Homo sapiens: one gene and its partner. The protein of the gene in region 1 interacts with the protein of each later gene in a biochemical or structural test. Each region holds a gene or a part of one and is shown on either strand. Other genes may lie near its edges.

The links.
Region 2: the proteins of MAGEA3 (region 1) and USP17L2 form a complex in vitro, tested with the Homo sapiens proteins (one study listed by BioGRID).

What each region holds. Positions count from the first base shown.
Region 1 is NC_000023.11:152,697,283-152,701,740, reverse strand, and holds the start of MAGEA3 (melanoma-associated antigen 3), read right to left. Parts: upstream 2,948-4,458; 5' UTR 2,912-2,947; exon of another isoform or gene 2,667-2,911; intron 2,536-2,666; exon of another isoform or gene 2,477-2,535; intron 2,436-2,476; exon of another isoform or gene 1,953-2,435; intron 1,184-1,952; exon of another isoform or gene 1,120-1,183; 5' UTR 1,054-1,119; intron 974-1,053; 5' UTR 909-973; coding exon 1-908. UniProt on the Homo sapiens protein: Activator of ubiquitin ligase activity of RING-type zinc finger-containing E3 ubiquitin-protein ligases that acts as a repressor of autophagy. May enhance ubiquitin ligase activity of TRIM28 and stimulate p53/TP53 ubiquitination by TRIM28.
Region 2 is NC_000008.11:12,136,036-12,140,613, forward strand, and holds USP17L2 (ubiquitin carboxyl-terminal hydrolase 17), read right to left. Parts: upstream 2,815-4,578; 5' UTR 2,726-2,814; coding exon 1,133-2,725; 3' UTR 400-1,132; downstream 1-399. UniProt on the Homo sapiens protein: Deubiquitinating enzyme that removes conjugated ubiquitin from specific proteins to regulate different cellular processes.

The DNA of each region.
Region 1 (4,458 bases):
GGTGGGTAGGAAATGTGAGGTCCTCCACTGATCTTTACCATATGGTGCAGGACTTTCACATAGCTGGTTTCAACGAGGGCCCTTGGACCCCACAGGAATTCATAACATGCAGGATCACTGCCGGGGACCTGCCGGTACTCCAGGTAGTTTTCCTGCACGAAATGTTGGGTGAGCAGCTTCTTGGGATCCCCCAAGATACTGTCTTCCCTCCCCTCAAACACCTCTAACACACTCAGCTCCTCCCAGATTTTCTCCTCAGGGGCACAGTCGCCCTCTCTTGCGATTATGGCCAGGACGATTATCAGGAGGCCTGCCTTGGGCATGATCTGATTGTCACCCAGCAGGCCATCGTAGGAGAGGCCCAGGCAGGTGGCAAAGATGTACAAGTGGCCGATGGGGTCCACTTCCATCAGCTCGATGCCAAAGACCAGCTGCAAGGAACTGGAAGCTTTGCTGAAGATCACAGGAAAGAAATACTGCCAATTTCCGACGACACTCCCCAGCATTTCTGCCTTTGTGACCGGCTCCCTGGCTCGATACTTGAGGAGCAGAAAATGAACCAACTCGGCCACCTTCCTACTGAGTGCTGCTTGGAACTCGGACTCCAGGTCAGGGAAGGTGCTTGGCCCCTCCTCTTCTTGGTTGCTGGAGTCCTCATAGGATTGGCTCCAGAGAGGGTAGTTCATGGTAGTGGGGAGGCTGGAGGCTCCCTGAGGACTCTGGGGAGGATCTGGTGACTCGGCAGCAGGCACCTCCCCCAGGGTGACTTCAACTAGAGTAGAAGAGGAGGAGGCAGCCTCCTGCTCCTCAGTAGCAGGAGCCTGCGCACCCACCAGGCCCAGGGCCTCTCCTCGGGCCTCAAGGCCTTCTTCAGGCTTGCAGTGCTGACTCCTCTGCTCAAGAGGCATGATGACTCTGGTCAGGGCAACAGGCGGGAGTGTGGGCAGGAGCTGGGCAATGGAGACCCACTGGCCTGGGGAGAGAGGGAGCATGTGAGAGACCTCAGCTGAGTACTGAATGGAACCTTGGAGGCTCTAACAAAGGCTTACTTACAGATCTTCTCCTTCAGTGCTCCTCCGGGGGCCTCTGGTCCTCCAGGTCAGCCTGTCCCCTCAGAACCTGAAGGAGGAAGTGAGAGGGCACCTCAGGGTACATCCGGCCAGCGCATGCTGAGGCTGCAGGACTGAAAGTATTGAGGGTGAGGCCAGGCGCTCTGGAGTCCATGTGTTCTGGGGCAGGTGGGGCCCTTGGTTTGAATCCAAGGCAAACCTTCACCGTTGGCACTATCTGAGCCCCCTCTACTCTGTGACCTGAGGACACTGCCTCAGACCAAGTCCTCACTGCCTTGTTCCTGGAGCTCCTGATTCCTGGGAGAGGAATCCACGGGCCCCCAATGTGCAGACAGCAAACGCAGCCACGGATTCCCAGAACTGTCAGGAGGGTTGGCCAGACTCTGTGAGGTCCCCACTCTACTGGGGTGGAGGATCCCCTCTGTGCTCACTCAGGGCCCTCACCTTTCTCCTTATAGGGCCTAATCCCTCCCTTCTGCTGGCCTGAGAATCTCTCATGTCAAGAACTCACATACCTGATATGGTACAGAAAAACATGAGGGGACCCACATCTGGCCATACATTCCCAGGTCCTCCCGGAAAGGACAACGAGAGATGTCCAAATTTATTGAAGTCCATGTACCCTGGGTGAGGAGACTGCTTGGTCCTCACCTCCACTCCTAGTAGGGTCTGAGAGCCTCCCTCTACTGCCCTGAGTGCAGCCCCCTCAGACCAAGGCTTCCCCTTCCCTGACATCAGTGATCCTAGGATAATGGAGGGACCTCAGCTGACAGCCCTGCCCAGGCTCTCTGAGGTAACAGCAGGAGCAGGGCAGATTTTTATGGGGCCCCCAGTCCGCATTCTGTCCCAGGGGTACCCTCAATCCTCCCTCAGTCTCTTCACCTGGATGCTTGGCAGATCCTAGGACCACTGCATCTGTCCACCACATAGGGGCCCCTTGGGGGTACACCTTGGGCCCTGCAGATCCTGGGATTCCTCCCTCTGCTGACCTGAAGTCCCACTCTTCAGACCACAGCCCTCAACTCTCTGGTCACCCTGAAGGCGCAATGAGCACAGAGCACATTTGGCCACTGTGCCCAGCATCCCCCAGCCCAAGGTTGCCACTGATCTGGACTCCAAGGTCCCCTCAGTCCTCCCTCTTCTTCCTCCCCATGACTCCTCGCAGGGCTGGGCCCCAACCCCCTGCTGAAGTGGGTCTGCATCCCTAGGATTCCCGTAGCCGAATGAAAAGGTGCCTCGGTTTGAGACAGGGGTACAGTGGGCCCCCTGTCCTGGCATGCTGGGTCCCCTCAGGACTCCACTGTCTTCCAGGAGGGCCTGGGCCCTTTCGCTGCCTCCCAACGGCCATACTCGCGATACCGAACCCCTTCCCTCCCTTAGCCGTAGATGTGAACCTCAGGACTCACGTGCCTGGCCGCCATTCCCGGAGCTTCCGTGACTTGATACCAGGGGCAAAGCCCGGATTCTGCCAGGATAGGGGTGGGGGTGGGGATGGGAATGGGGAATGGGGGATGGGGGTGGGGTTGGTGTTGGGGGACGGGAATGGTGGTGAGGGTGGTGGTTAGGCTGCCCTCAGTTCCCTCTCGGGGTCCTGACCTTGATTCCTGCCACAGCGTGGGCCCTGACCTCTTCTAACCAGCCCTGCCCTGGCCACATTAAGCTCTGTCCCCAGAGTTCCCCGTGGCTAAAGCGGCGGGGGTCGGCGGGGTGAGGTAGTGGCGACCCAGCCTGGAAGTCTTCCCCTGCGGGGTGGCCCAGGCCCGGCAGCAGAGGCAGCACTGGATTATTTGAGGCCCTCTGTCTGAGGTGAGGCCCGCCTCAGTCCTCCCTCAGCGTCTTACCTTGCCTCCTCACCGAGCCTGGGCCGGCTTCCCTCCGCCGACGTCAGGCCGTCGCTCGTTGCTCAGGGCGAGAATCTCGCGGTCTTCTGACCTCCAATGCGCAAGTCAGTGGCGTCACATCCTGGCAACGGTACTACCCTGGGTTCCGGGCAGGGGTGGAACTGGATTCTGCCTGGATGGGGATCGGATGGGGGTGGAGGTAAGCATGAAGATGGTGATGGGGCAAGGGGTAAGGATTGGGACGGGGGTCCTGAGGCTGTAGATCCTGGTGGGGTCGGGGGAGTTGGGGGTGGGTGGGCGGGGCCTTCGGTCATCCCTCAGGGTCCTGAAGTTGATGCCTGGCTGAGCCTGGACCGCCATCCTCTGCAGATTGCTTCTGCTCCCCTCAGACCAAGTCTCTGACTCTGAGTCCCCCTGAAGTGGCATTGGGGGAAGGGGTGTGGTCTGGGTGACATCACTGCCTGCGTTTACCAGGGCTGACAAGAGGGGCTGAGCTGGATTCTGTGGTCCCTCTATGGTGTGTGGGGTGGGGGGGCGGTGTGGACCCTCAGTCCTCACTCAGGAGGGTCGTCTTCGTCACCTCTGGCTGTTGGATGAAGTGATGGGCAGGAGATGCTCTGTTTCTGTCACCTGTGAGCATTTGCACAGCTGCACCCCTTGTAGAGAATGCCTGCGGGTCCCAGGCCAGGTGCTCCCTGCAGGGCGGGGCGGCAGCTCCCGCGGTTGTAGTGACCTCCTATTTCAGTCTTTGTGTTCTGTTGAAAGAATTTTTTTTTTTTAAAAATGTAATTCCTCTGCCACTATGGTGGTTTCAGGTTGTTATTAGCAGAACTCTGGAGTCATACTGCCTTAACCAACCAAATTTTCCTGGTGTCCTGCTATTACCTAGGGCTCTTGGCATCGTGTTTTCAGAGGCTGCCTCAGATTGTGCAAAGAAGTGAAGTGGAAAATTTCAAACTTTTATTCTACCCATTCTGTCATCTACCGTGTAGGCCGGCTACAAACCTCCCCAACATCCCTGCTGCTAACCCCCTCCAACCAACACTGCAAGTGTCAAACACAAGTACCAGCTCAACACAGCCTTGAGTCTCACCCTGGGCTTTCCCTGTTTTGTTGCGTAGATTTTGTTGCTGATACTGGTTTTTTATTTACTGTTTCCATTCTGTAATTTTCCAGGTTTGATTTGGGAAGCAGAGCACAGCAGCCCAAATTTGTTGTAATGGCGGCGGCTACAGGTAAGGCACTAAATTGTAAATAATTTAAGCTGAGTTTACATTTTTACAGTGTTGTGCTCCCCATGAATGAATATGTTATACTCCTCTATGTATTTCAAGCTTTTTTTTACCTGAATATGTCAGTATACTTCGACAGTTGTCTCTATAAAGACCTTATACATTTTTATTAGACTTCTTTTCAGGCAATTCATGAATTTTGTTGCTATTGCAAATGGCATATTGTCTATTAATTGTTGTAGTTAGTTATTGCTTTCGTGAGGTGAAGATTTTGATTTTGCTGTAGTAATCTGTTGCACTCCTCGTTCTGAAGGC
Region 2 (4,578 bases), on another chromosome or scaffold:
TTTTCACACACGTCACACGGAGACCCTGTTCGTATGCACATTTGGGTGCTTGAGCAGGGTTGCGCCCAAGATTCTGTGGTTCTACGGAGCCCTGAGTGGTGCCCTGGGCAGCTTTCCTCTGGGGTTGGTCAACTTTGATCACTGCACCTAACGAGAAAGGGACCATGAAATCTAATCAGCAAATACAGACAAGCAAGGGGCCATTTCCCACAATCATTTCCACGGAAACACCACGTCGGATACGTAAGTCTGATTGCAGGACAGGGACTGTGCTTCAGAGATGCAGCTTTCGCAGCTGGACGAATGACCCGGAATCTCCCCAAATGCCATTTGTAAGCACACCAAATGAGGTTTATTTCAGGGCTTTCTGAATTTATTTCAGTTGAATACACACACTCCTGTGTTTGATTTCCTTTATTATCAATACGACTTATTTCCAAATGACTGACATGCCAGTGGGAAAATTTTCCATTTCGACTCATTGGAATTGGACATCGTGAAACAGGCAAGTCGGTCTGTCTGTTTCCGGCGTTATGTGGGTTCCAGCAAGAGCACAAGTCCCAGGGCGCCTGAGGTCCATTCAGAAACCAATGTAAAAACGGTGAGCCAGGGTAAGAAAGAAGAGCACCGTTCCTATCTTCTAAATGCATTCCAGTTTCCACTATTCAAGGTGGCGAGAATGATCCATGGATGTGCCACATGAGCAAAATTTCACCTTCTCGTGCCGCCCAACAACTGACGAATGAAACACACCCCAAGAGAAAATAGGAAACCGAGTCCCCTGCAATAACCTCACACTCAAACCTACACGTCAGTAGGTCATATTCAGAAATACACAGTGAATGTCATCTACCATGAACACAAACACACAGACAGTCTCTCCAGAGGTTCGGAAGACTCACGACCCCAAAACTTGATGTTTCCCATGTGTGGGCTCATCCTGAGATGCAGCCATCACTATCCAGTTGTCCCTGTTGTAGAGACAGAAACTTGGACTCCTCATTACTTTATGTAGGATTGACGGTGTTCGTGTTTGTGTGTGTGTGTGTGTTTGCGTGCGCGCTTGTGGGTGTATTTGTGCGTGTGTGTGTGTGCGTTCACCCCTACGTGTGGGTCGGCACTTCCACTGAGATCACTGGCACACAAGCAGAGCCCTCTTGCTGTGTTTGTTCTTCCCTTTGGATCTCCTGGTCCTCCCTTGCAGAGAAGCGAGGGTGCCAGTGTTCACGGACTCCTGATCTGTCCGGGTCGTCGAAGAGAGGTTTAGCAGGGAGCTTTGCTGTTCAGGATGATGGTTTTTCATCCCACACTTGTATTTCGATTGATGAATCACAAGTACGTTGGGAGGCAGGGTACCTTCGACTTTTCTGACGTTGAACTCAGGCTTCGTTTTGTTTTGCTCTTGGGGGAATTTCCAGTGGTCTAAGGTGCTTTCCTGAGTGGCTCTTTCCACCAAGCGCTCGTCCAACTCGGGTGCCTGGAGGCAGGGGTGGTCTCTCTTGAGCTCTCCTTGCGTTGCTCGCCTGTCTGTGTCTTCAGCGCCGAGGGCTCTTGGTTCCCTGCCTCTTGACACACTCTCACTGTGTCTTTCCCATTCACTCTTCTGGATGTAAAAGAGGACATAGGCCTGTTGACTCAGGACAGAAGTGATGCTACAGGCAGTGACCTTGGCATCATCCATTTTATACCACTGGCCTTCTTGAGCTTTGACATAAGAGAAGTAATGTCCGTCGTGACAACTCCACCCAGCGTGGACCAGCACAGCATAGAGGACATAGACAAGAGGTCCTGTGTTCTGCTGAGACATGTATGGCTGCATGTCAAGGCACTCAGGATATTGCACATTCTTGGCAAGTTTGTTGCCTGTGACATCGGAGAATCTCTTCAAGACAAGGATGAGGACCTTGGCAGAAGTGTGTAAAGTTAACGTCTTGGAGGCCGGCGCCCTCTGGAGACAAAGACCGCAATGATAGGCATTCTCTCCATTGAGTTCTTCGGGCTTCACCAACTGTTCCAAAGCTTGCTTGACACTCTGAGCTGCCTGGATATCCAGGGCGATGTCCAGGTAAGGGTCAAAAGTGTCTGAAATCCCGTGGCAGTGGAGACACTTGATTTGAGATCTCCAGCAGCCTCCAAATATTTGGTGGATGAGGGTGGTGTCCTTAGAGTGATGATCTACCTGCTTGTGGCCGGGAAGGCATGCCTTTTTCATGGCATCCACAGTGAACATGAGAAATTCATGGGCATCTTCCTGCTTGCCTCTATGGAAGCCAGCAGCCAATGCCTGTGAGGGCTGGATGACATGACCAGGACTGTGGAGGGCCCATGTGATGTGAGCTTGCATAGTACAGAGCATGCAGCACTTGGGACGCTGACATGTTTGAGAGTGCTCCCGGGACAGCATGTAGTTGGCAAGGGGCGGTGTGTATGTCAGGCACTGCAGGGAAGCGTTCTCGTAGCAGGTATTTCCCATATTCTGGAGCCCAGCCCCCACCGCAGCAGGTCTCCTGCTACTCAGAGGAAGCTTCTTCCTGGGAGCAAGCTGTCTTGCCACAGGAGCCAAATCATCACAGAGGTCGACACGGGCCTCAGATGAGAGTGGTGACTTCTCAGGGAGAGAAGTCCGCTGGATTTCAGCAAAAGCTGCATCTGGCCGAGAAGATGTGAGTTTTGAAAAGTGGTTGAACTGCCACTCACCTCCCAAGTAGAGTGAGTCGTCCTCCATGTCGCCCGCAACAAGGATCACAAGGTTTTTCTGCTGGGACTGCAGGTTGCAGCAAGACGCTATCTCTTCCAAGAGAGTCTTCAAATGACGAGCTCTCTGGCCGCATCAGCCCTTATATAACTCACCCCCACCAACCGCGAACACCCCACCCACCCATCAGGTGTGCGATAAACCAATCAAATATCAGCACTCAATTAAGGAATGAGTCACAGGGTGTGTCCCCTTGCATCGCTGGGAATTCAACAGACACAGCCCACATCATGACTTCTAGAACACCTGAATCAAATTACTCCTCAGGGTGATAGGCACATATAATATGAGTGTAACCGGGTTGGGACAGTGGCCACACAGTTGCCTTATTTTAGGTAAAAGAATGTCAGGGAAGAAATCTTTACCTATGAAACCGTGTGTGTATCTCTCTGTGTGTGTGTGTGTGTGTGTGTGTTTGTGTGTGTGTGTGTGTGCTTGTGCTGGGATGAACTTCCAAGTATGTACTTTTGGCAGCTACCGTCATCCTCTCATCGACGGAAGGACAAGAAGTCTGAAGTGCGCTTTCTGACCTGAGAATAGTCAATGAAGTATAGTATTTAGCACAGCGTATTTTCTTCCTTAATAATAAAGGAGATATCCGTGGCATCAAACAGACCTTCCAGGGATAACCTTTCCACGTTCAGCCTATTGACTCTCTATCCGAGTGAAATTACTGGCCAGTGGAGAACAAGACAAGTCTTTGCATGAAATGCTCTTGTGGAAGCTAGGCTGCCAAATAATAAAGCATCAAATGGTAGAAACATGCACTGAAGTTTGAAGAGTTACTCAGTGCACAAAGTAGGCTGTGAAAGACTTTGGGGAAATCATGCAATCACCGAGAGACTAATTGATGACATTCCCCAAATTTATGTGTGCCAGAAAAGAGAGATGGTCCTGACATTGTATAGTGAGTGGTTTCGGACGTGCGGCGGCAGTTTAAGAAAACTTGAAACAAAAAACTTGAGAAATCCAAAGGTATCCCAACTATAAGCTTTTGTTTATTAAAGAACTGATGAAAATAAAAACAACGTATCTCACAGCATGGGTGATACTATTTCCATACTTACGTGATAATGGATCAACATTTCATAGAGATGAAATAAAAAGTTCTAATTTTGACAAAAGCAAACAAGGAAAATTATACCGTAGAAAAGCCCGGGTGACGGGAGTGAGGCCCTGTCTGAAGAAGAAAACATCGGAGACGTTTAAAAGCAGTGAGTGAAACAGAGGGTAGCATAACCTTTTTAATACTGGCTCTTGTTTCACTGGGAAATGGCAAAAATAAACCGTGTATCTCCTGGATTCTCGCATCGGTTGTTCATGCTCTGAGATGTTCCCTCCATTTCCAGTTATGCATTGTATGGTGGAATTGCAGTTAGCACCTTTGATGCAAAAATTGTAATGCTGACGAAAGTGGACATGTTCCCTGAACTAAGAGGGACAGCATTTGGGTGTGTCTTCAGGCTCTCTGGCTTACCAGGAATGAAGATCCTGGCTCTAGGGATTTTCCCAAAATGTCTTAGACAGTAAGGAACAGGGCAGAATTGAGGCCCGGCGCCAAGGCCTCTGGGTGTAAAGAAACAGCCCTGGCTTCATGGCCCATGAAATTAGGATGATTTTAAGGATGGTGATGAAATGAGTGGGCTGTGACCTTTGGCCCTGTTTCTTTCCTTTGTCTTTTCATGGGCCAGGTGTGCTTCATCAGAAGGCTTCCTATGCCCGATGTAAAGTGTCCTGGGGGAAGAAAGGAGCACTGCTTAGAAAGATGCTCCACAGGGAGAAAGGAGCCGCCATTTTCAGAAGAATGTTCCCCAGAAACATGA